Linked DNA regions of Homo sapiens: all the other regions are reported to be linked to region 1. The links are microRNA targets in miRTarBase. Many come from high-throughput screens and were not tested one by one. Region 1 holds a microRNA gene; each other region holds the end of a gene's coding sequence.
Evidence for each region. Region 1 holds the annotated microRNA hsa-miR-8485 (CACACACACACACACACGUAU, at 1,406-1,426, shown strand). A microRNA usually pairs through its seed, bases 2 to 8, with sites in the 3' UTR of a target mRNA and lowers its output. Matches are read on the target gene's strand: a 7mer-m8 pairs with bases 2 to 8, a 7mer-A1 pairs with bases 2 to 7 and ends in A, and an 8mer does both.

Region 1 (4,152 bases):
GACCTTTCAGGGGAGTGTCGCGTTAGGTTCGGATGAAACCACAGAGGAAGTAACAGGCAGTCATTACGTTCAAGATGAAGGTACAACTGACAAAACCAATACATTAATTTTCCTTTCAGTCTGATTAAAATCCATTTCTCTATCTGACCATTTCTCTAACTTGTCAAGTTTCACTTTGAAAGATGCTCCAGTATTTCAAGGTCTTAACACTCTTTCCAACTTTTGTCACACACAAATTTAATGAGCATCCTCTCTCTTAGACATCATTGTAGCATATTAATCATATACTGTCCTAACTTACCTTATCAGCTTGTGACAATGAGTCTTTTCTAAAAAAACTTTTCCTGTATATTCAAAATGAAGACTAATGAAGTTTATTTATACAAGCTAAAAATATAACACTCAGAATTACGTGTGCAAAATATTCCCTGTAAAGTATATTTTATTTCTCTTTTTCACTTCCCATCTGCCCCTTCCAAATACATCTTTGTCTTCTGGTTGTTGAGAGGTTGCAGGGTATTCATATTGTCTTATTGCTGGTACAGTAGGACGTTTGTGTATGACCCAGCTTTGTTTGTTAAGGTGCTTGAAGTAAGTAATATGCTCTCAATGAGACAAAAGCAACAATTTGGAAACAAAAGTGGAAATTAACAATGCCACTGGTTTCTGTTTAAAGAATTTATGTATCAGGCTTTCATTGTGAATAAACTCAGTAAGCAGCTACTCAAATGATGTGATTACATGGTCTAGGAATATACTCTTGGTCTCCAAAATGACTTCTCTATGACTCCTGGTAGTATATGAAACTTAGTAATTAACACTTTCTACCATTTAAATCAAATAAATATGTTTATCTCTGTGAAAATTCAGGTATTCTTAAGAGAGCCTCACTGATCCTCACCCGAAAATTCATGCTTTGGTTTTAATGGGTGTGCTTGCTGGTTTCTCTACAGAGAGCTGCTTTGACAGTTGCAAGATAAAAGAAGAAATAGTTGCTCAGAACCACAAAGAAAATAAATAGACATTGGAAGAAGAGGCATAAACAGTTTTCTCCGCCTGCTTCACCCCATTGCCTTGGCTTTTCTTGTCTTTCTTCTACCTTATCACGACCTTCTTTAGCAAACTATGATTTAGCTTAGAGGAGAAGCATGTTTAAAGAGTTGTAAGACAGGTTTTCTTTTCTAACTCTCCATCAGAATATTACTTACTTCTGAGACTGTTTTTCTTATTTATAAGAAAGGAGATTTATAACACTGTCAGCTATCTGTGTGAAGAATTATGTACATTTCAAATTCTCATTTTTTCATATGTATAGAACATTTTATGGTCTTCAGTTCTGTGATATACGTGTGTGTGTGTGTGTATATAGCATATGTGTATACATACACACACACACACACACACACACACACACACACACACGTATATGTACTGTCTTTTAAAATTTCCATAGTCGACTGGGTGTGGTGGCTCTTGCCTGTAATCCTAGCACTTTCGGAGGCTGAGGCGGATGGATCACCTGAGGTCAGGAGTTCAAGACCAGCCTGCCCAACATGGTGAAACCCCATCTCTGCTAAAAATACAAAAATTAGCCAAGCATGGTGGTGGGCGCCTGTAATCCCAGCTGCTTGGGAGGCTGAGACAGAAGAATCGCTTGAAGCTGGAGGGCAGAGGTTGCAGTGAGCCAAGATTGTGCCACTGCACTCCAGCCTGAGTGAAAGAGCGAAGCTCCATCTCAAAAAAAAAAAAAAAAAAATCAGAGTCACTCTGGTTAGGCTTATTTCCCTAATCCTTTGGAATATTAGTAAAACTGAGGCTCAAAAAACTAATGCACAAAGTCATATGGATAAAAAGCGATATCTAACCATTTATCTTCAACTCTTCCTACTATAGCACGTCGACATTTATTACCGTGTTCTAGATAAAAGCCTTCTTAGAACTATTAACATATTTCACATATTTTAATCTCTCAAATTTTGTTTCTCGTTTTGTACAATAATTTGTGCTCCTAGAGGAAAGCAAAGACTTAGTCTAATCTCTTTGTCAAATGGAAATAGACTAATGTTACTTACTATGAATAAGAGACTATATCTCTGTCCCTAGCAAGATGTCTCTGGCTAAGGGATTACCCATAGTTAATAGAACCCAGGATCTATGAGGCAGGGCTACCTGGAGCATATGACATAAGGTACACCACTTTATGTTATATGATGCACCTTATCTGAACTTGATAGCTTATATCCTTGAAATTATTTAGCAAAGCTTGATGCTGGGCAAGATCTTTAATTCATGTGAGTCTGATTTGACAATCTAATCCTCACATTTGTCGGTAAATAATACAATTAAAATATTCTGAAGGAATCTCAAGTACAAATACCAAAGATAAGATGCCTTCCCCCCACCGCCACCCCCTTACCCAGGTTGAAATGTTACTGATAAAATATGTTGGTAAATAGTCTCCCTACTGCACTGGTGAAATCAAAGCCACCCTTAAGCAGTGAAGATGGCTAATTTAATTTCAGTAGTTATAAATCAAAATTAAGCCTAGGAAACTGGACCCATAAATGGCTGCAGAGAATCCAGCTGTGTTTATTCTAAAGGCACTCCCAGATCAATTTGCATGGAGGTGATTTGGCTATGAGATAAGGGAACTGTCTTTCAGCCCCATCAGTTAGAACAGTCACCAGGATCTAAAGTACCCAATCAAGAGAATACCCCGCAATTAATTTTTTATAAGCCAAGGAAAGACTATTGCTAAAATGTAGAATAAAGCCTTTATTTTGTAATGATTACTTTTGTTCCAGAGAGCATTTTCTGGATTAAATATGAATATTGGGGATAAAAGGATTAACCGATTTTACCTCAAATTCAGTAAGATAAAGAATGTAACCTCCACCTACTCATAATCAAATCAATTGATTTGTTCTTTGGTAGAATTGGTTTGATTTTCTTTTCCCTACCTTGAATTTAACCAAAGGATATGATGCTTCTTCGATTCTGACTTTGTAGAGATGAACAGAGATAAATCAGTTTTCTTGAGTGTTCAACCTTGAATGGACAATCCTCAGACTTAGAAATAATTATTTCAACTAACAAATATAGAAGGTTATGGAGACACAAAGAGGGACAGATTCCAAGGAGTTTTATTATTTACATCAAATGTTTTTTATAGTATACAGCTTAGAAGTTGACTGATTTATGGTTTAATTCCAACTATTATATATTCACCCATACATTAAGAGGGAAACCGATGCAAAAAGATAAAATAACATGCCCAAACAGACAGAATATGTAAATGTAAGAGACAGTGCTAGAACCTACCTTTTCCCCTCAAATTTCTGGAATCTTTTCTTTCTAGTCTAATCCATTAATTTACAAAGTTTAATTATATTCAAGTAACAATTCATACGTTTCTATTTGGTACCCATTATTTTAAAATGCCATTAAACATCACTTGCTAAATCATACACACGTTAGTCCCTAAACCTCAAAATAAAATGCTATGGGCTGGACGTGGTAGCTCACACTTATAATCCCAGTGCTTTGGCAGGCCAAGGCAAGAGAATCCCTTGAGGCCGGGAGTTTGAGACCATCCTGGACAGCATAGGAAGACCCTATTTCTACAAAAAATAAAAACAATTAGCCGACCATGGTAGTGGATACCTATAGTTCCAGATACTCAGGAGGCTGAGGTAAAAGGGGGACATGATGCCAGGAGTTTCAGGCTGCAATAAGCTACGGTTGCACCACTGCACTTCAGCCTGGACAACAGAGTGAGATTCTGCCTCTAAAATAAACTTCAAAATTAATTAATTAATTAAATGCTATGAAGTATACTTTAGGTTGCAGACATATCTGCAATTTTGAAAATATACCAACTTTCTGAAGTTGAGTTAGTAATATAGATATTAGGTCCTAGTTACCATCTCTTTATTTTCCCTTCATATTTTCCTTTGCAGTTAGTGGTTGCAAGCTGCATTTTAATGCAGAAATATCAGAGTTCATTGATTCAACGTATTTATTTCAGTAGTGCAGTTGTGCCATTTTTGCATTTGTGGTCTCACATTTTGTTCCTTGCCAGTTTATTTGACCTTTGCACGCAATTGTAGGCAGGAGGAAGTCCAAAAGTCCCTAGGTATAGTGGACCAAAGG
Region 2 (4,000 bases), not on the chromosome of region 1:
CGTAACTTAAATTAGATCATCAGAAAGTCCTCCCTGAGGAGATGGGATTTTTTTGTTTTTTAGAGACAGGGTTTCACTCTGTCACCCAGGCTGGAGTGCAGTGGCACAATCACACCTCACTGCAGCCTCAACTTCCTGGGCTCAAGTGATCCTCCTGCATCAGCTTCCCAAGTAGCTGGGACTACAAGTGTGTACCACCACATCCAGCTAACATTTTTGGGGGTGGGAAGAGATGGGGTCTTACTATGTTGTCCAGGCTAAGAGGTGGGATTTGAGCTGAGACTTGAATGCCCAGGAGTTAAATGTCTTAAGATATGGAGCAGGCCGTTAGAAAGGAGGGAGCAGCAACTGGAAGGTAGAATAGTCTTATTCAAGGAATAAGAACTATGTAATCACAGCATGGTGAAGAGTTAGGAAGTGAAAGAAAAGGTCAGAAAAGGAGGCAAGGGGCTTATAAGGGTGTGATAAGAAGCTTGATGTTTACACTTAAATACATTGGGAATTCTCTTATCAGTTAAGTCTCTTTAGGTGAAAGGACAAAACCTACCTTAAACTAGCTTAAACAATAAAGATAGCTGGCTCATATAACTGAAAAATTACAAGATTAGCTTCAGGAAGGGTTTGATCAAGACTCCAGCTCCATTTCTTTACGATTCTTTCAGCACTACCTATGTGTGCTGGCATCCTCAGGCTGACTTCTTTTATGGTACCAAAGTTGGTTGCAGAAATTCCAGGCCTCATATGCCCAGAACACTGTATCTAGAAAAATATCTCAATGGTAAGAACTATCTTTTCTTTACTTGTCAGCTATATTGTTAGGAGGCAGTAAAAAAGCAGTGATGACAGTTAATGTTTGAACACAGATCCACATGAAGACCTTATGAAAGGAGTGAATGAAAACATTGGATGATTTAGGTCCTCTGAGCATGTGTCATGAAAATGTGATGCCCTGGCCGGGTGTGGTGGCTCACGCCTGTAATCCCAGCACTTTTGGGAGGCTGACACGGGCAGATCATGAGGTCAAAAGATCGAGACCATCCTGGCCAACATGGTGAAACCCCGTCTCTACTAAAAGTACAAAAATTAGCTGGGCATGGTGGCGTGTGCCTGTAGTCCCAGCTACTTGGGAGGCTGAGACAGGAGAATTGCTTGAACCAGGAAGGCGGAGGTTGCAGTGAGCCGAGATTGCGCCATTGCACTCCAGCCTGGCGACAGAAAAAGACACCATCTCAAAAAAAAAAAAAAAAAAAAAAGTGATTCCAGATTAGTAAAGGCAGGGACCCAAAGGATCTAAAGAGATGTACAGTTAGAGTATTTAGCAGACACTATGGATATTAGATTTCTTAACAGCCCAGGCTTGGGTCCCTTCCTAGATCATTTAAAATAGAATCATAATATTGTTCCTCCCCAGCTACGAGTTGCTATAAATATGATGCTAGAATACCACAGGCACAGTACAACTCTCTATGGAAAGAATGTACAGAACACAGATGATAGTAGCAGCATATTCAAGTAACACGCACAAGGTGATCACAACTGGGGAGGGATGAGTAACAGGACGTTGGCCAGTTAGGAAGAAAAATGGTAACGCAAGACTGCAGCTGCTGGGACTGAGCCATGGGCCCCAGCCACAGCAAGCTGATGCATGGCTGAGGTAATCAGAGAACAAACATTTCAACCACCCTTTGAGGCAGAGCCAGAAACAACAGTGGACTCTCTCATCAGCAGTCACTCACATTCCAGCGCGTACACAGCATGGAAAGAGGTCAGGGTCGTGCTGGATGTTGAGTTGCAGTCCCTCCATGTAGGCAAACAGTAACCTTTACAGCCTTGTCTTTAAAAAATATCCCTCCCAGATGGTAAGGTCTGGCAACAGTGAGATGCTCCTGTGGAAGACCACAGTTGCTGCTTCTCTAGCCTCACACTCCCCCGCCCCAGCCCAGCCCTTCCCCACACCTAAGACAGGAGCCTCAGGAATGTGTGACAGTCTTGCAGGGACTTCTAAGAGCCATCTCTGCCCCACTGAATGATAAGGCAGACCACTTTCTGAGAAGTTTTTATTGCCTCGAAATGTCAGATCTTACAAATAGAAAACACAAATTATGTTTTTAAAATAAAGCAATAGGTTTGGTAAACATTTTGTTAATACCTTTTGAAGGGTTTATGAGTAAACATCTTTCTCTTTATCAAAAAGTAAAGCACACCCTCACCTCTCTTCCACACTGACTCACTACTTCTGCCGAAAACGTGGACTTCTTTCTTCTATTACATACAGCATGTTCCTTGCATCCATTGCTTGAATCTGTACAAACACACACACACACACATGCAGACACACACAAACCTGGCTCCTCTCAGGCAGTGGCCCAAGCACCACAGTATTGCAGCCAGCACAGGCTGCCCTGATATGCTGAGGCCAGGGCAGTGGCTGGAGCAAGACAGCACAGTGGTCACGATCACAGTTGCCCAATGCATAGGAAAAATTACCAAAACCTCATTTTTAGGAGATATTACCAAAGCCCATGAGTACAGCCAAACAGCAGGCTAGATAGGAAAGATCAGCTTGAGTTGGTTTAAAGGGAATCCCTTTAAGTTTAGAATATCTGATAAAGATTATCGCTCAAAGCAGGTGAGGAGAGGGGTTGGTGGTGCAAATACTGTCCCCAGCAGAGGTGAGATAAGCTTTTAATTCTAACAGGCTCAATTCCCATTTCAAGGGGCACCTTTCCTTCTACCCCTTCCCTCTTATCTCTCAGAAGCACCTTTGGATTTTCAGAGTAGAATGAATCAAGATTAGTTTTCAGCAAAGGTTAGAGTAAGTTGACGGGGATTACCCTGCCTTGGAATAAAACAAGCACTTGGGCTGATGGCTGAGATTCCCAATGCAACATCAAGATAAAGGCATCAGAGGTGACTGTGACACACAGAAGTCCCTGGGGAAGTACTTCTGTAAAAAAGAACCTTCCCATTCCCAACTCAAGCTACCAGAGTTCCCAAATATGTGCTTTCACAAATATACTCAGAAGGTAGCCCCCAGCATGATCACACCTAGGTAGGTAGCCCTCCTGAGTCGGTATCTCTGTCATGGCCACAACAAAGTCTTTTGTCAAGTTTATTATGGTTGGTTTGCTCAGCTCTTAGGAAAGAGGGTTTGGAGACAGACCCGTTAGGCCAGGAAAATTTAGGCCCACAAGTCCCGGTGGAGCTGTTCTGATGGAGTTGTTCTAATGGTGCTTCCTCTCCTGCAGAACTTGAGCAATCAGTCCGATGACCCAGGAGATGACCCCGGCAGAGCAGCTTGCCACTTATTAGAACTGGGCTTCATGAGAGGCTCTTAGGACACTGGAAATTTCAAGTTAATATCCTGAATAGGCTTTCTTCCTGTGAAAATTTTGCAGGCATTGTCCACGATGGATGGAGGAAAAGAGGGAAGGCAAGAGACCAAGCTAGGATTGACTCCAATATTCTCTGCCACCCTGTCCCAACACCAACTCCCATAACCTAAAAGGGGGTGGAGGTGGGAATCAAATTTGCATTTGGTGATAGGTGCAATTTTCTCCAACTAAATCATCCAAGCTCTTACGTGGGTTCTAGGAGGAATAGGCCATCCATGCCACAAATAGTCCCACTGATTCCCTCCAAAAACATCTCTAGCGAAGCCCTTTGTGCTGGCGGTGAGAGCTGTGCTGAAGGAAAAGGTGGGGTGTTCGTGTTCCCTGAGTTGTCACCACCTTCCTCTCAGAGATGATCCTCTGACACAGCAGTGGGCACTTTGCTGGTGTTGCTCTCCTCCTCCTCCTCTTGGAGTTTCTATAAAGCAAAACAAACAGGCAGTGCTGTGGGTAAAGGCACAGCACTCCACCCTGGCTGGAGCAGCTGCCTGGCCATGACTAATCAGTGGGGAATACAAGAGCCGGGGGCCACTCAGCATCCCAGAGAGCCAAGAAAGAGAACAAGAAAAGAAGCAACCAGCCCCTGCCATAAATGCACCCACAAACAC
Region 3 (4,000 bases), not on the chromosome of region 1:
AATGTGTAAGAATAACTGGGGCAGATGACAACATTATAGTAACAATAAGCCAATAAGCTCAGATGATGGCAAAACTACTTCTGGAATGACTTCAGGTAAACTGTTTATCATTTCTAAGTTTTAGTAACTTTGGCTAACTAAAATCCCTATCAAATTTCTTAGATCTCTTTCAGAATTTGCCACTTTCTCAAGCTTTTAATGTTAAAAAATTCTAAATTTAGGTTGATCTACTGGATCAAGCAAACATTTCCACTGATTTTAGTGTACATATTCTAGCTATCACTACTTTAATCATAAAACTATTTCAATTAATTATTAAATACACCAATAAAATTGGAGACTTGGGACTTGAGCAGGACTTCAGCTATTTAGTATTACACATGTATGTGTGTATATATATGTATGTGTATATATACATATGTGTGTATATATATGTATATATAAAACTAATCACTATATATAAAACATATATAAAACATATATAACATATATATAAAACTAATCACAAAGGAAAAACTTTTTGTGAGGGCAGGAAAAACCATAGGAAATGAGAGGAAAGGGAAGTGCTAACACACCAGAAGGAGGCAGGCTATTTCAGCATCTTTTAACTTAGTATTTTAGGTGATACAGAACACAGATATCCAAATGGCTTAATTCTATACTAAGTATAAAAACATGACTCTCCAGTATCATGAATCTTTTCAGGTGGCATTGTGGTGACGTTTCTTCCTTTTCATGTATGCCTTTATAGACGCCCTTTACAGAACCCTTAATAACACTAAACACAATGAATTCAGGAATTTAACTTTGTGCTCTAGCCACGATCTCAGAAATCCACATGACCTACAAAACTGGAGGCAAAGGAATTTGGGTTTTTGAAGATATAAATCCATTAATCGAATTTCTAGTTTAAAAAATGGAGCATTAGTTTTAAAAAGTAAACTAGACCTTAAATAAGAGGTTATCTAGATTTGTCACCCACCTACTCAACAAATATACATTGAATACAGTGTGCCAGGTGCTGGCACAATAATGATGATGATTGATAAGGTTCCTGAAATTAAATAATTTCAAACAAGTAATTATAGTTTTGAAGAAGTGCTATGTTGTTCTCAGTCTGAGTGACTGCACAATATAATAATGCTGGCTGAGGTATGACAAGGACAGGGAGTTACATAACACGTAATAAGAACCTGTAATGGAACATTAGGTCAAAGAAGACATCTGGGAAGACCTTCAAGTGTCTTGAATTTTCTAGAAACTAAAAGAAAATTAGAGTACAGTGAACAAGAGGGAGAACAGGTTGAAATGAAGCTGGAGAGGTAGGCAGGAACAGACTGAAGAGCTTTTAAAACTTTAAGTGGGGACTTCAGTACGAAGGTTCACCAGATCACACAGAGCTATGAAGGTCATATTAGAATTTTGGATTTAGGAGTTAGAAGAGATTTAGTGGCTGGGTGCAGTGGCTCACACCTATAATCCCAGCACTTTGGGAGGCCAAGGTGGGCAGATCACCTGAGGTGGGCGGATCACCTGAGGTCAGGAGTTCGAGACCAGCCTGACCAATATGGTGAAACCCCATCTCTACTAAAAATACAAAAATTATCTGGGCTATGGTGGTGCACACCTGTAATCCCAGCTACTCAGGAGGCTGAGGTGGGAGAATTGCTTGAATCCAGGAGGCAGAGGTTGCAGTGAGCTGAGATAGCACCATGGCACTCCAGCCTGGACAACAGAGAAGACCCCGTCTCAAAAAAAAGAGAGAGATTTAGTGGTTAGTTTAGGTCCTTCACTGGGATTAAAGTTGGGCCATAGGTAATTCAGTAAATTAGTTTCTTAAAATGGCTTAAGAGAATTCTTCTGAGACAAAAGGCAAACAGTTTTGGGTCATTTTGTTTTAAAAGCTGAGTAGGTAAATACAGCCATTTGTTGAGCACCATCAATGCGCAATGCAATGCACTTGAAATATCACCCACTTCCCCAGGGCTTTCTTAACTGACAGAAAAACGGGGAGAGTGACTTGAGTAGAGCATAAACATGACTAGGAAAAGTACTTAGAGCATAAATAGCGGTTTCTGAGAGCCTTTAGTGACTTTCTAGGAATATTTTCACTACCCTCTCCACTTTGATAACAAATACACTTTGATGTAGTCTCAAAGGAAATCTTTAGGCCTATGCTTCCATATCATTTCCAACCCCCAACAATAACTTCATGTGATGAAGTTTAACAACATTATAAATGGAAGGATGAGTATACAGTTCAGTAGCTCAAGATAATGGATATAAAGATCCAATAAATATAAAAGCTACCTTTTATTTAAAACGAGGCATATTCTTGGGTGCGGTGGCTCATGCCTGTAATACCAGCACTTTGGGAGGCCAAGGTAGGTGGATCTCTTGAGACCAGGAGTTCAAGACCAGCCTAGCAACATGGTGAAACCATCTCTACAAAAAATTAAAAAATTAGGCATGGTGGCCCATGCCCGTAGTCCCAGCTATTAGGTTAGTGAGAAAGTAATTGTGGTTTTTTGCCGTTAGTGGCTTTTTTTTTTTTTTTTGCCATTAGTGGCATTAGTGGCAAAAAAACCACAATTACTTACACACCAACCTAATACTTGGGGGGCTGAGGTGGGAGGATGGCTTGAGCTCAGGAGGTGGAGGTTGCAGTGAGCTGAGACTGCACCACTACACTCGAGCCTGGGCAACAGGTGAGTCAAAAAAAAAAAAAAAAAAGGCATTTTCTGAAACACAAGATTTAAGTGAAAGTAGTATTTGTAAGCTGGAAAGCCATGTACAAGTGCTAGCTCTAATTCAAATTTCCCACCCTTAATTCTTTCTTGTAAAGGACTGTCTTCAATTACATCCTGTATTCTTTCAATGGAACAAGAACACACGTTAAAAATGGTATTCAAACAAAGAAATACAGCAACTCAGTTTATTACATGCAGATTCTTCTGCATTGTTGCTAACAGTTCACTGGTCCAAAATTACTAAAATACTTAAAAAACTATACATTATGTAAACAAAACATAAATAAGACAGCATAGTTCTTTGTACATATATTTAGTACAGGTTGTTAGGGATTCTGGAATATGTACAATTTTACATCATGGACTGCATTTTTCACAATGCATAAATATATATATGTATTTTTTTTTTTACAGAAACAAAAATAAGATTTCACTAATGACACTGAATACCATATCATAGATATGCTGCAACAGTCCAAATTCAAGAAGAAACATGTCAATGTAAATGTGCAAAAGGCTAGCTTACTCTAAACTATTCAAACTTTGTTCACTTTATGTTCTACAGACAGGTAAATCCTGACTTTAAACACAGAACCTTGAAACCCTCCTCAGAACAGTAAGTGAAATGGAACAGATCTTTCCCTCCCCAAGAAAACAAAGCCTTGTTGCAAGCTAATGAAAAGATACATTAAAACACACACACACACACACACACACACACACACACACACACAATGTATAGTATGCTTTCAACAGTATAATAAACATTGAAAATTTTTATGGGAGTCAAAACAATGCCCCATTATTTAAAAACTGGCTCTTTTAGTCTAAATTCAAGATGCAGCTCTGTCAGGCTTCTCTAAGCCCGACGACTGAAAAGCAGGGAAGACAGACGCAGGACTTCGACTGGCAGATACAACAATCTGAGAGAGAGATGGAGAGAGTGAAGAAACCTTAGATGCTGGAGTATTTATGGTATTCAAAATGGCTCCTTCTGGGCTAACCAACAATTTTTTGACAGGTGGGTCCAAATGAAACACTGAAGTGCTACTTGGCAGTGGAGGATTACTGGGGCAAATGGCAGAAACCAAAGATGTCTTAGCCAAAAGAGTAGCTGGAGACTTAATTACTGAAGTCAGTGATACTGTTGGTACAGGAGGTGGAACAGGAACCTTAGCAGTTGTGTTTATGAGTTGTGGTGATGTATGTACTGTGGGTATAGAACTTGCATTCCCAAAAGAGTTTATAAA
Region 4 (4,000 bases), not on the chromosome of region 1:
GACAAGAATATTTCACAATCAGCTGCCTGAGCATTGCCAAGTACAGGGTTAAATAGTAAAAAATAAATTAAAATATTAAAATTGTGAATATATATTTTCAAAAGAAAAAGCTCCACCTATTTCAAGTATGCTTTTATAATTTGATTTTGTCATGATCCTTTATGCTCCGCTATTGGTTAAATCTCAACTCTTTTTCTTATTCTTGCCATTAGCCTTCATTGATCTTGCTCTGTTTCCATAAAAAGGCCACAGTAGATAGTTAAAATGGGAGGGCAGATGGAAAGGTATACAACAAGGAATGAAATGGGCTTGTACAGTTTGTCTTCTTTGAACCCTAAATACCTTTAACTGAATTCATTCTTGACTATTGAAATCCCTGAGATGAACAAAAGCAATCTCAATCGACACTGAAGCCCTTTTTTTCATGCTGAACATTTTTGGAAGTGGGCAATGTATTTAGAGAACACAAAGGATATGGTGACAAAGTAATGTGAAAAAGCTAAAAAGGCACTACTCAATGCATCTATGAGATAAACATCAATGCACAGAACAATGAATGGCTGAGATATGTGTGCTGTGGCCTTAACATTGTTTAAATGTATTTACTGAAAATATACTAAAAATGGTCCGGCTGCGGTGGCTCACACCTGTAATCCCAGCACTTTGGGAGGCTGAGGTGGGTGGATAACCTGAGGTCAGGAAGTTCAAGACCAGCCTGGCCAACATGGTGAAACTTTGTCTCTACTAAAAACACAAAATTAGCCGAGTGTGGTGGTGGGCGCCTGTAACCCCAGCTACTTGGGAGGCTGAGGCACGAGAATCACTTGAACCCAGGAGGTGGAGGTTGCAGTGAGCTGAGATGGCATCACTGCATTCCAGCCTGTGTGACAGAGTGAGACTCCATCTCAAAAAAAAAAAAAAAAGAAAAAAGAAAAAGGAAGAAAATATGCTAAAAATGGCAAGGTACCTTGCTGCTGCTTTTTTAAGATATACTTTAAATGAGTGCCCAGATGGATTTTACCTTTAAGATATTTGCTTGTGACTTCTAGATTTCTGTTGGATTTAAACTAAAGGCTACTAGAATAGCTTATCATTTGCAAGTAGTCCAAATTTAGATTTTATAAATCACTTTCAATTTATTAAGTAAACCAGACTTTTCAACTTTACATTCAAAACATGTATCTATTCTCTTACAATTTCTGATAGATAAGAGGTTTAATTATAAAAGTACATTAATGTTCCATTCATTTTTAGCTATCAGTCTCCTATACGCATTAGATTTTACTTACTTAGAGACACATACATTCTCAAAAGATGTAATATTCTATATCCCAAGGTTTTACTATATTAAAAAAATATGACATCTAATTAAAAATATTGAGAACTGTACTACTGTGAATATCCTTTTCCATGGTAACACACACACACACACACGTACTTCATGCTTTTTATTCATTTCTCAGACTGTTTTCCCTAAGAAACAAAACATATATATTCCCCATGCCATTTCTTCTTTCCTCAAATTGCCTGCCCAAGAAATAAGAAATCAAAGTACAAGTGAGAATGCAGAGCTTCTGCCCAGTTTCTAAAGAAACAATCTACTATCATAAGTTACCAGAAAACTGGCCTATTGGTCAATTCTGTTATACATTAAAAATTTTTTAATTACTTTATTAATAATTTCATGTGTTTCTTGAAGAACATATGTGATATTGTGACTAAATTTAACTACAGAAAATATCGGTCAATTAAATTCATTTTAAATGCAAAATATTGACACAATTTCACTGTTAAACCTCTTGAAATTAATCATCTCTGTTTTGAAAACAATACTCTATTAATAATGTTATTTCTGCACTAAGAAATTTAACAGTAATATATAAAGCATTTCCATATTTCTATTTGAATAACAAGGGGAATATCAAAGAACTGGAAGTCACATTTCAGCTATATCAATCTAATATTTATTCTAAAGGGCAAAATGCTTCCACAAAATTATTATGTAATGCAAAAGGTGTGAAAAACATTTCAAATGAAAATAAAGTATGAGTTTGAAAATTAAAAAATATTTAGAGACAACTTTCACATTAATAGCAAAATAATATATTCATGTTAATAATATATTATTTTCATGAAAGAAAAATGGTTTGCTGTGTAGAAACACAAGTGTAATCTTTGGTACCAAAGATTTTTTTTTCCCGGCCTATTTTACCATCTCTGATGACATGGAACATCTTTCCTTTAGAATGGCCTAATATTACATAGTGGTTCACTTTAGCTGGTACCTTCTACACCACTGGAAAATAACATGGAGGTTTAGAGCCGTGCAAAATAAAACTTTTTTAAAAATGTCGGCCAGGCACGGTGGCTCACGCCTGTAATCCCAGCACTTTGGGAGGCCAAGGCGGGTGGATCACGAGGTCAGGAGATTGAGACCATCCTGGCTAACACGGTGAAAATCCGTCTCCACTAAAAATACAAAAAATTAGCCAGGCGTGGTGGCAGGCGCCTGCAGTCCCAGCTACTCCGGAGGCTGAGGCAGGAGAATGGAGTGAACTTGGGAGGCGGAGCTTGCAGTGAGCTGAGATCGCGCCACTGTACTCCAGCCTGGGCAACAGAGCGAGACAAAAAAAAAAAAAAAAGTCTTTGTGTGATAGCTTTTAAAAAGTATAAGAACTTTAAAAATAATTACTTAAAGTTTATTTCCTCACTCATATGCATCTCAGAAAGGATTTCTAAGCATCCCAATATCCAAACCAAAAGAGATTCCAGAAGACAAAAAAAAAACATAAATTAAAACATAAAATTCATGATCAGACTCAGAGTCCTGACTGAAGCATTTACTTGAGTTGTTTAATCTTACGGATTTCATTGCTCAAACTGCTTCCATCTTGGCTTCTGCTGACAAGGATGGTTTAATTTCCCAAGGTCTGAGTTGCGTTCCTGGGGTTCCTCTTCTAATATGCTTGGTGTTGCTGTGGGCAGCCTGACAGTGATGAACATATTTGCTTTGTTAACTAATGATGAGTGCACTGTTGGATCTTGTAAACACTACTGATTATACATTCAAACTGTATTCTTAGTGGAAGTGGCACTTACTAGGACCCTTAAAGTCAAAATATTTAATTTTTAGAGCACTTTGCAGGTATTTCATCAGCTGGTAGTCGATTTCTCATGAACGTCCTTTATTCACCTTTCAGTTCATTGGTGGATGCTGAAACCCAGCCGTGTTTTGGATCCTATTTTCAAATCTTCGGAAGCATCTTCAGAAAAGAAGTGCATATTGTTTGTTTCAAAATGTGCTTTATTGCTTTACACACTTTCCTGTTGTCAGTTTTAGAGCTCCTCTATTATGTAGCACATTTAATGTTTTGAATTCTAATGGCATTCTGTGAGGGCTTGCATTGGAAAAGTACCTATATTTTAAGTCATCATAATAATGATATTTGACCGCTTTTCCATTTAAATCCTTAGGGAAGGGCCAGAATCCATACAGGTGAATTTCATCACAGAATCTTGTGGCAAGTGTATACATGAGAAGACCTGTGCTGGGTCTTTTGATAGGAACTTTGTTGGTCAGCCAGTAACTGGAAAAACAAAAAACAAAATCAAGAAGAGAAGAATTTAGACACACATAGAGCATATCCTATAGCAAGTATATAATGCAGAAAACTTAAAAGGTATCTTTATGAATAATATTTTAAAGAATTACTGAAGAAATATTTTTAAGCATTTAGAAAATTTGATGCTTTTATTTTATTTCTTCTTTATCCTTTATTTTCTTTCTTATTCTTGAGGTCATATAAATACCCAAGGGACCTGGAATGTAGGTGAATATTACTCTAGAATCTCACCTTTGAAATGAATAATAGCAAACATTTATATAACATGCAGAGTAAAATTTTCTCAAAAAGGATTAAATACAACTGCAGAAGTCATGGTAATTGGGTAGAGATTAAGTAATCCTCCCAGAAAAAAAAGTTTGAAACTATGCCTATAG
Region 5 (4,000 bases), not on the chromosome of region 1:
CACAACTATTTGAGAAATGTGGCAATGAAAAGAAAGCCAGACATGGGGAAAAGTGAGAGTTCAGGATACCAGAATTAAGAAAAGTTGTTTTTGTTGTTGTTACTTAATGGTAAGACCTAAGTAGATGTGTGGACAGAGAAAGGAACAGTAAAAGAGGGAGAGGTGGAAGATTTCTGAAGAAAAATAATCAACTGAATCGAATGAGATGCATACTCCTGTTAGAAAACTGGGGCTGAGGGGACAATAAAATTTTTAAAAGAACAATTTAAACAAGGAGTAGTAGAGTGCAAAGAGCACTGGACTCAGACTTTTGATTTCCAAGTTCTGATCTTAGCTTTGCTACTTACTATCTCTGTGACCTTGGGCAGTCACTGCTTCTCTCTGGGACCCCGTTTCCTGATCTATAAAATTATCTTTAAGGTCCTTCCTAGCAGTGACAATGGCATGTCACCTACTTCTCAATGTTAACTTTTCTCTTCCCTGACTTTCTTTCAGGTATCGTAGTGAAAAGATGACCCTGAGCTATGCTGAATACCTTGCTCATCGCCAGCATCATCATTTCCAAAATGGCATTGGGCATCCCCTTCCGCCATACAACCATTATTCCTGACACTGAGCCGCACAACCAGTCACTGGGCCTCTCTGCAGACCTCTTCCCAGGAGACCCTACACCTTCTTGGTCTAGCTATCTCTTTTACTGTACCATTTTATGATGATAGTTTCCGTTGCCATGGTGAAGCTTCGACATCGTCAACTAAGATCATCATGGTAACGGGTAGAAAAATGGCATTTGTTAAGATCCTGTTTTATTATTTTAGATCGTTGATTTTTTTTTTGCAGCATATATAATTTTGGGTTTTTTTTTCCTTATAATATTATGTAGAATTTTGCTTTGCTGTCTCAGTCAGGTTTCTGTTTTTCTGTCCTCCTTGCCTTTCTTCCCGTTTTGCTTCCTGTTTTCCTTCTTCCTTCCCGTTTTCCTTCTTCCTTCCCTGCCTCCCTTCCTTTGACTGTGGATGGAAGAAAGTGTGCAGTTTTTAGGGATTTTACTTAGGTTCGTCTTTAGTTTTCCTCAGTAAGATAGTTGTTTTTTGATACCTGAGTTTGGGATTAATTCATATCAAATTCAGGTATTTGTATATTACTCTTGATTTTTGTCTGAAATTCACTTTGCTATGACAGCCTAGTAGTTGGGTCTTCACTCCTTAAGTATATGTTTTTCCCATGGTGAAAATACATGAACTTTAGTTCTAGTAGTGAGCATTCAAAGGTCCGTGATAGGGCTTGTCACAGAGAGAGAGAAATCATTTATCCCTATTGTGCTGGTTATCATAGAAGAGACTGCCTCACCACTTTATAGAACCAATTTGCAAACTAAAACACTGTTTGGAGAAGGTACAAACTACCTTTCAAAAAGGCTACAGGAAACATTTTATGAGCAGCAAATATTAGGAAGAGAGCAGATACAGAATTTAGTGCCTTTGAGAAGAATATAATTAAGTGGAATTAAGAGGGGTTAGAAAAAAGGCAATTTAGAAAAATATTCTTGTAAAACTTTATTGTTTCTATATGTGAAACAGAAGATTAGACAAATTCCTTACTCTTAAGTATTTTTTTAAGCTGAAAAAAAATTATTTTGAGCAAATAACCAATAAGAGACATTTGTCTATTTTATATTAATTTAAATTTGTTAGCTCTAGGTTTCAATAAGTCATGATTGGCTAGAATCCATTTTAGCTACCATCTAAAGATATGGTAAAGATAATTTAGTAAAACAAAAGTTCATATTTGCCATGATTTCAGATATGTTTGTCATGGGGACAATATTAGAGTTTTAGAGATACTATAAAATAGCTTGAATTTCTTTCTGCACTACATACTTTTGATAGAAACACATTTACTACATTGATAAGATGTTATGTCACACCTGTGAAAATGGAGTTGGCATTCAGATATGCTATAGTTAGAGCCCAGCTCATCTGCAAGTATAGTCTTCCCATGATGCATACAAAGATAACTTACTGATGTCGATAGGAGGTCCATACATATATCCCCAGGAAAAATGACAGATTATTCTGGAGGAAGATGACCTTCATTTTATGGTTATGTGTGTGTGTCTGTGTGTCTTTGGAAAAATATATATAATTTTTTCAAATAGGAAGCCAACATATCAAGTGATGAATTAAAGTATGCTGCAGAATATATATTCTAAAACTACAAAAAAGTCACTGAATATCAAAATGATACAGCTTATACATATAGTTACTGTGACAAGTGACAGACTGCTAGTTCAGAATTCAAAAATCCTTTCCTAGTTTGTGAGATAATGGGCTAAATTCCTTCTGCCTGCCACTGGGGCAAAGCAAATTGCTTTAGTTTTTGATGAGAGTTCTTAGAAGTTTGTTGGTATTCCTTCATCCACAGCATCCATTGTTGAAATAACCATTTTCAGTTGTGATGCCTTAACTAAGAAGCCAATTGTTAGCCTGAAATGCAATCTTGGTAGCCAGTTTCAATGAAGCTAGAGATTAGTCAGAAAAAGTTAGCTGTTGGGCTTTAGAAAGGGATTTTGAGTCCTGTCATTTCTACTTGGGAGCATTTTGGAGCAGATTAGTCTTTCAGTATAAAAACAAGTGGCTACCTGATGGAAACTTTTCTTACCCTTATAGGGAAACTGAGCACAAGCTGAATGATATTGTCTGCTGCAAAAAAAAACAAACAAAAAAAAAACAAAACAAAAAACAAAAAAAAGGAAAAAAAGGTAAATAAAACAAGCAAACTGAAGAGAGACAAAATAGACCAATATTATCGTGAAATCCATCTTATCCATCATCTCATCGGTTCAACAGGCTCCTCGTCCTGGGTGAGCTTATGGTTAGAAGTTTTTTTAGCAAAGATTTATTACATACATAGATGTGTGTGTGTACATATACTTACACATACATACATACATATATGTGTGTTTATTTAACGGTGCTAATCAATCTTGAGCAGGTCACGTGACTGGTCATGCGGACTCTAAAATCATATCAGATTTTTTAAAATCCTTGATATATGCAGATGTTATACAGATTTTCTTAGCAGTGTAATAACGTTAAACTGAAGAAATAACCATCCTGCAGGCTTCAAAGGACGAGGTCAGCAATATTTCCCAACATGGCTTGGGGGAAAAGGATAGTTTTGTCTCCTTTTGTATTCAAGTAATGCAAAGTGCATTTTTGTCTCTAAGTAGCTTTTGACTAAAAGACTTTGTAGTGTAAAGGGTGTTATACAAACTGTAATGGTGTGCTTCAAACAAATGCTAGACCCTTTCACCTTTGTCGTATATACAAAGCTGTTAATTATGTGGTATGAATTAACTTTGAACATGTTGAAATATGTAGCATGTCTTTAACTCAGACGAAGATTCTGATTGCACAGGTTGTGTTCTAGCCAGTTGTGATTTATTTGTTCAGAAACACAAATGTGAATTGCACTCTTATCATCAGAATATTGTATGAGTTCAGTGATCTTTAAACAGCTCAGAAGTAATACTTGAACTTCATTTGAGTAGCACAAAGTTTACATAGCCCCTTTTAAATGTTAATTCGTTCCATTTAAGTTTTCCATTTTCAGATGCAACTGGGTATTTTTCCTCTTGGAAATAGTACGTACTTTGCTTTGGTATGTAGCAAAAGGCTTCCATTTCTGGAAGGGTTTTCTTGTTCTTAAACAAGGTCAGCCAGGTACCAGATTCTAAAAGAACAAATTGTCCCCCACCCCTCAAGTGGCCTTCTGACTGCACGAGAATGTGCTACTACCCTCTGTAGTCTCCCCTAACACGAGAGGTCAGTGAAATTGATGGAGGAAGTGCAAGGCTTGCTTCCCCTCACCCTTAAAGCTTAAAGCAGTTGTAAGATTTTCAGTCCAGCACATACAGTCCCAGTGCCCAGCACACCGGAAGTTTGTATACTGGCCTCTTATCTTGTCTTCAAATGTGCAGGAAATTTGAAACTGTCAT

Region 2: miRTarBase lists FLVCR2 as a target of hsa-miR-8485. Seed matches in the 3' UTR shown: 7mer-m8 at 2,920-2,926, 7mer-m8 at 2,335-2,341, 7mer-m8 at 2,333-2,339, 7mer-m8 at 2,321-2,327, 7mer-m8 at 2,319-2,325, 7mer-m8 at 2,317-2,323 and 3 more.
Region 3: the mRNA of BRD10 is a reported target of hsa-miR-8485. Seed matches in the 3' UTR shown: 7mer-m8 at 3,478-3,484, 7mer-m8 at 3,476-3,482, 7mer-m8 at 3,474-3,480, 7mer-m8 at 3,472-3,478, 7mer-m8 at 3,470-3,476, 7mer-m8 at 3,468-3,474 and 12 more.
Region 4: miRTarBase lists ST8SIA4 as a target of hsa-miR-8485. Seed matches in the 3' UTR shown: 7mer-m8 at 1,427-1,433, 7mer-m8 at 1,425-1,431, 7mer-m8 at 1,423-1,429, 7mer-m8 at 1,421-1,427, 7mer-m8 at 1,419-1,425 and 7mer-m8 at 1,417-1,423.
Region 5: miRTarBase lists AMMECR1 as a target of hsa-miR-8485. Seed matches in the 3' UTR shown: 7mer-m8 at 2,107-2,113, 7mer-m8 at 2,109-2,115, 7mer-m8 at 2,111-2,117, 7mer-m8 at 2,119-2,125, 7mer-m8 at 2,915-2,921, 7mer-m8 at 2,917-2,923 and 2 more.

The regions. Positions count from the first base shown.
Region 1 is chr2:50,693,446-50,697,597 of GRCh38, reverse strand. MIR8485 (microRNA 8485) reads left to right here and starts at 1,336; the gene lies at 1,336-1,426. The region is part of intron 5 of NRXN1 (neurexin 1); the gene reads left to right.
Region 2 is chr14:75,646,211-75,650,210 of GRCh38, reverse strand. It overlaps FLVCR2 (FLVCR choline and putative heme transporter 2), which reads right to left. Exons shown (of 10, transcript NM_017791.3): 10 at 2,044-3,810. The coding sequence ends at 3,739. ERG28 (ergosterol biosynthesis 28 homolog) reads left to right here. Exons shown (of 5, transcript NM_007176.4): 5 at 1-420. Among named protein-coding and RNA genes, the nearest start is that of ERG28, 13 kb to the left of the region's middle. RefSeq lists an enhancer at 1,571-1,865.
Region 3 is chr9:5,916,101-5,920,100 of GRCh38, forward strand. It overlaps BRD10 (bromodomain containing 10), which reads right to left. Exons shown (of 8, transcript NM_001017969.3): 8 at 2,922-4,000. The coding sequence ends at 3,584. Among named protein-coding and RNA genes, the nearest start is that of MLANA, 27 kb to the left of the region's middle.
Region 4 is chr5:100,808,543-100,812,542 of GRCh38, forward strand. It overlaps ST8SIA4 (ST8 alpha-N-acetyl-neuraminide alpha-2,8-sialyltransferase 4), which reads right to left. Exons shown (of 5, transcript NM_005668.6): 5 at 1-3,587. The coding sequence ends at 3,305. Among named protein-coding and RNA genes, the nearest start is that of MIR548P, 6.0 kb to the right of the region's middle.
Region 5 is chrX:110,195,130-110,199,129 of GRCh38, reverse strand. AMMECR1 (AMMECR nuclear protein 1) reads left to right here. Exons shown (of 6, transcript NM_015365.3): 6 at 496-4,000. The coding sequence ends at 610. Among named protein-coding and RNA genes, the nearest start is that of SNORD96B, 28 kb to the left of the region's middle.